Linked DNA regions of Homo sapiens: region 1 is linked to region 2. A link means that fine-mapping ties the variant in region 2 to the expression of a gene that starts in the linked region. Tissue or cell type: whole blood. Region 2 holds a variant in brackets; the other region holds the start of a gene. All regions are shown on one strand. Distances are from middle to middle.

Region 1 (2,678 bases), 21 kb before region 2:
GGTGGGCACCGAGGTGTTGTCAGGGCCCAGTTCACAGCCCAGCAGGCCCTGCAGAGTGTAGGGACCTGGGGCGCCCAAACACAGGTAAGCGGGGCCCCGGAGCATGGACCCGGCCCCTTGCCCCTCCAGACCGGAATCTCACCTTTTCCCCCCAAAGCTTTGAAAGCTTCCAGAAAGAGCTTCTCCTTGATCCTCAGATCTGTGGTCTCTTTCTCCCAATACCAGGACACCTGGTTTTCCCAGACCCAAGCTCCACAGGGCTCCGCCTCGCCCCGCAGGCTATTGTAGCTCAGGTACTGCTGCGGGCCCAGCCAGCCGGACACCCAGAAGGCAGGAGTCCCCGGGGCAGGCGAGGACACCGCGGTAAGGTGGTACAGGAGGGAGAGGTGGCTTTCTGCAGACAGAAACAGAGCTGAAGGGAGCACACGGGCGGGGAACTAGACTGCAGTGGGACAGATACCCAGGGAGGGAGAAGAATCTATTATGGAGGGAGGGGGACAGATTCAGAGAGAGGGGACAGAAACCCGGGGGGGGGGGGACAGAGACCCAGAGAGAGAGAGACAAGAGACCCAGAAAGAGAGGGGGACAGAGACCCAGAGAGAGAGAGGGAAACAGACACAAGAGGCGACAGGTGGTTCCCAGCCTCAGGCCCAGCAGGAGACGTTGAGAAAGTTAATTGAGCGGAGAAGGCAGCGCCAGGGGCTCGCGGGGAACTCGGGTCCCGCTGGCTTCGCCCCTGCCTGCCTGGGGCCGCCTCCCGCCGCCCGCCTGCAGCAGGGCCCTGGCCCGGAGCGGCCCTCACCTGCGCCCAGGCTCCCAGGAAGGAGAAAGAGCAGGAGCCCCAGCGCCCAGGGCTGAGGCCGCGGGACCCCCATGCTGAGAGGACGACCTGGGGCGGGAGGGGGCACGTGACTCCTCCCGACCCCCGGCCCGCCCCTTCCTCCCGGGACACCGCGGGCACGGCCGGGACCAGGACGCCGAGGAGGGGCTCTGCGGGCTCGGTCCAGACTGACAACAATGCCCTCCTCGTACCTGAAGAACTTTCACCCCTGAACTGGATCTCAGTTGGTTAATTAATTACAGACACTTGATAGGCTGAGAGTCCCGGCCCCGAGCTCCGCCACGCCCCTTCCGCCCCCCTCAGGCCCCAGCCCCTCCTCCCTCAGACCCCGGAGTCCAGGCCCCCAACCGCTCTTCCCTCGGACCCAGGAGTCCGGGCCCCCAACCGCTCTACCCTCGGACCCAGGAGTCCGGGCCCCCAACCGCTCTACCCTCGGACCCAGGAGTCCGGGCCCCCAACCCCTCCTCCCTCGGACCCAGGAGTCCAGGCCCCCCCGGCCCCTCCTCCCTCCTCCCTCAGACCCAGCGTCCAGACCCCCAGTCCCTCCTCTCTCAGACCCAGGAATCCAGGCCCCCACCCCTCCTCCCTCAGACCCAGTGTCGAGACCCCCAGCCACTCCTCCCTCAGACCCAGGGTTCCAGGCCCCCAGCCCCTCCTCCCTCAGTCGGGCCCTGGTCGGCTCACGTTCCCTTCAGCCTCGCTCCCTTCCTGCCTGCGGCCCTGGCCGGCTCCTGGCTCCCGTGACTGGAGACCCCAGTTCCTCTCTCACATCCTGTGGGAGGCTGCTGCTCCCTGACTCCAAGAACATCCAGCCCCACCCCCCAGTTGCAGGGCACACCCCAGGCCCTAGGCCCAGCCTGTTTGTTTCTCAAAACGCTTGTGGTTCTTCTTTTTCCTTCTCTGTGGTTCCCGTTTTTTACTTTGAGGGTGTCTGCCGCTCAGGGAATTCTTGACAAAACTGGGAAAGGAACTCGATGCCTCCGGAGTCCACAACTTGGAGGTCTCTGGATCCTCCTCCTACCCCTCTGTATCCCCGTGGCCTTCCCTAGCGCTCGCTGTTAATCAAAATCTTCTGGAAGCCTCCTTAGTTCCTCCTTCAAGCCCTTCCCCCGGCATCCCCTTAAAAAATTCCTGCAGGTGCTCTTTAATATCCTTCTGCGGGCCGGGCGCAGTGACTCACGCCTGTAATCCCAGCACTTTGGGAGGCCAAGGCGGGCGGATCACGAGGTCAGGAGTTCGAGACCAGCCTGGCCAATATGGTGACACCCCCGTCTCTACTAATAATACAAAAATTAGCTGAGCGTGGTGGTGGGCCTGTGGTCCCAGCTACTCGGGAGGCTGAGACAGGAGAATTGCTTGAACCCGGGAGGTGGAGGTCGCAGTGAGCCGAGATTGCACCACTGCACTCCAGACTGGCAACAGAGCGAGACTCCGTCTCAAAAAAAAAAAAAAACCACATCCTTCTGCTAGGACTTCAGTGACCACATGGTCCCCATACAATGCTGCCTCACTCGAAGGCCCCTCCAGGCACCAGCCCCCGCCCACACTCCTGCTACAAAGCTTCCCATACACTTATTTCATTGTGGTAAAATATTCAAAATATTTACCCTTACTGTCATTTAACACATTTACAGTGCTGTGCAACTGTCACCTCTATCCGAGTTCCAGAGCTTTTTTATCACCCCAAACAGAAGGTCTGTCCCCGTTAAACAGCCGCTGCTCCCAGACCCCTGGCAACCATTCATCTGCTTTCTGTCTTGATAGATTTGCCTATTCTGCACATTTCAAAGAAATTGAATCATATAATATGAAGTCTTTCCTTCCTTCCTTCCTTGCC
Region 2 (2,678 bases):
ATGCACATCACTGTCCACTCATCTTTCTCTGGGGTAAGGTTGTACATGTAAGTATACAGGTAACAAACAGTTACTCCTGAATCTTGGCATCCAACCGCAAGGACAGCATGAATCTAGCTTCCTTTACTTCACAGCATGTTTACTTTTAGTGTTTAGGCTGTTTAGCGTGGAGACCTGGGTATGACGTATTACTGAACACGACTGCTAGACATCAGTAAAATGGGAACGGGGCCTGCTCCAGCAAGCTTTGACCAGGGACATTTTATGAAATTGCTACCTAGTACTAAATGCTCTGTATCAGTGCCCTTTCTGGGATTCAGACTGGCAGATCTAATGGGTTCTCTTAGTGCATAAAGCCTAGCGTTATCTGTTATTCTAGTGCTTATCATTTGCAAAATGCTAGTCTCTACAGACCGCCGGGACTACAGCAGCCTGGCAGCAGGGCATGGGTCCATACTTTGCAGCTGAATTAGAATGAGACAGCTTTACATTAACTAGGAAGCACCAGGCACTGCTGGCCACATTTTATGTCTTTGGTTTGTAAACGGTGTCTATAAAGGATCATTCAATTTATAGCAAGTTACATATATTCTGTATATTAGCACAGCCCATTCTACCCTCTTCAAGCTCCTCACCCCCCATTTGCCAGGGGCCTGCCTCCACAGCAGACACAGTGCAAAGACGCCAGATTTCTTTAAAAGCAATTTATTTCTGATTACAAAATACAGGTGAGGAGCATGGGCGATGCCTGTAACCCCTTGGTTGTGCATCTTCCCAGTCTATTTCTGCTTCTAGAAATACCCTGTGTACAACAGCAAGCTCATGCTGTCCCCAAGTGCTTGCACATTCTAACAGCTGCAGAGTATATGACCAGGTGGAAAGTCCAACAGATGCCCCACTCACAAGATAGGGCCCTCCAATCAGTCTTCTGGCTCCCTTTCACTCATAGTAACTGGTTGCTCTTCCTATTGGTCATAGATAAATGACACCTGCACAATTCTCCGAGTGCTTTCAAGCAACTTCGGGAGGCAGTGACTAAGACCCTTTCCTTGCTCCCAGCTTCCTATGTCCCAGGGCTGCCTGTGGCACCTGGACTGCTGCTGCCCCTGGGTCCCGTACATTCCAGGGCAACAA[T/C]GGAGGAAGGGCAGGCAACGCATGAGGAATTAACAGTCTTTATTGGGCTCAGACCAGGAGTCCGTGGGTCTTGAGGACCTCTGTGTATTTGTCAATTTTCTTCTCCACGTTCTTCTCGGCCTGTTTCCGTAGCCTCTGCCAAGAATAAGTGCAGGTGGTGGTGGTCAGGAGGGGTTGCATTGCCCTCATTACATGGACTGCATCCCACCCCAACCCCGGCTGGTCCTTTGCCAGTTAAGAGTACTCTGTGAGCAAGGCACCTGCCAGGCCTGTCCAGGAGTGAGATGCCCCCCTCAGCACCAGCCCCTGGCCTCACCATGAGCTGTTTCTTCTTCCGGTAGTGGATCTTGGCTTTCTCTTTCCTCTTCTCCTCCAGGGTGGCTGTCACTGCCTGGTACTTCCAGCCAACCTCGTGAGCCAGGCGCCCCAGATAGGCAAACTGCGGGGGGGGGGGGGGGGGGTGAACAAATGAAGTTGTAAGGATATCTAAGCCCCCACACCCTGAAGAGCCGGAGCTGTTGAGAGCTGGGAGGTGACTGACAGCTGGGCATATCATAATGCAACTGTTCTCTGCAGGCCTGTTAGAAAAGCACCCACCCAAGCCTCCTGGCATCAGCTAAGCCATTGGCATTGTCGCCATTCCCACAGGGACATCCGCAGACCATCGTGAGATAAGGACATCATCTGCCAGGCTCCAGGTCCCCAGGTCCCTCAGCAGGCCTGAAATCTCCCAAGTAGATGGTGCAGCGTAAGCTGGGACTCACCTTTCTTGTAGGCTTCAGACGCACGACCTTGAGGGCAGCAGGAACCACCATCCGCTTTTTCTGTTAGAGAAAGAGAGGGGCTTAAGAGCCCGGGAGGGACAGACAGGGAAGGAGGTCGGCTGGACTGGCGTCTCAGCCAGTGCTGCTTTCATGAGGATCAAACAATGTAGGTAGTTGCGGAACATCATGGACGCCACAGGTAAGGCCGCTGCCTGTGGGGTTTGGCATAGCTCACCTTGTCGTAGGGCGGTGGGATGCCGTCAAACACCTTGAGACGGTCCAGAGCGGCCTGGCCTCGCTTGGTTTTGTGGGGCAGCATACCTGTTGGGTGACAGATAGCAGGCCCAGTCAGAGGGCCTCATAAGGATGCCCACCCACCCCACTGAGGTGGGCCCATGGGGTGGCCTCAGATGGTAGTGCATGTGGAGTCATCTCATGGTCGGGAAACTCGAATGTGAGTGGGAGAAGTTCTCATCACCGGCCGCCTGCCCGTCACCACCTGCAGTCCCCACGCTCTGCTCACCTCGCACGGTCCGCCAGAAGATGCGGCTGGGGGCCCGGAAGTGGTAGGGGCCTCGGGAAGGGTTGGTGTTCATCCGCTTGCGGAGGAAAGCCAGGTACTTCACTAGGGAGAGGGGAGAGTGTGAGGCCTGCCCAGTCTACCAGCACCCCCAAAACCCCACTTCCAAGGGCCTTCTCAGAAACCCCAAGTAGCCTCTCCCAACACGGCTGCAATTGCTTTCAGAGCCTCAACACCCCACAGGGAGACCCTCTCCAGTG

What was found. PIP is the estimated chance that this variant, and not a neighbour inherited with it, causes the effect.
Region 1: FCGRT starts here. The variant in region 2 is fine-mapped to the expression of FCGRT in whole blood (TOPMed, PIP 0.97).

The regions. Positions count from the first base shown.
Region 1 is chr19:49,511,598-49,514,275 of GRCh38, reverse strand. FCGRT (Fc gamma receptor and transporter) reads right to left here and starts at 1,615. Exons shown (of 7, transcript NM_001136019.3): 1 at 1,526-1,615; 2 at 803-889; 3 at 143-394; 4 at 1-65. The coding sequence starts at 875. RefSeq lists enhancers at 1-105, 2,033-2,595.
Region 2 is chr19:49,490,320-49,492,997 of GRCh38, reverse strand. RPL13A (ribosomal protein L13a) reads right to left here. Exons shown (of 8, transcript NM_012423.4): 4 at 2,422-2,523; 5 at 2,134-2,219; 6 at 1,899-1,958; 7 at 1,451-1,573; 8 at 690-1,269. The coding sequence ends at 1,183. It overlaps SNORD33 (small nucleolar RNA, C/D box 33), which reads right to left and starts at 2,381; the gene lies at 2,299-2,381. It overlaps SNORD34 (small nucleolar RNA, C/D box 34), which reads right to left and starts at 2,091; the gene lies at 2,026-2,091. SNORD35A (small nucleolar RNA, C/D box 35A) reads right to left here and starts at 1,823; the gene lies at 1,738-1,823. RefSeq lists enhancers at 383-622, 1,788-2,391. The variant T/C (reference allele first, on the strand shown) is at 1,135.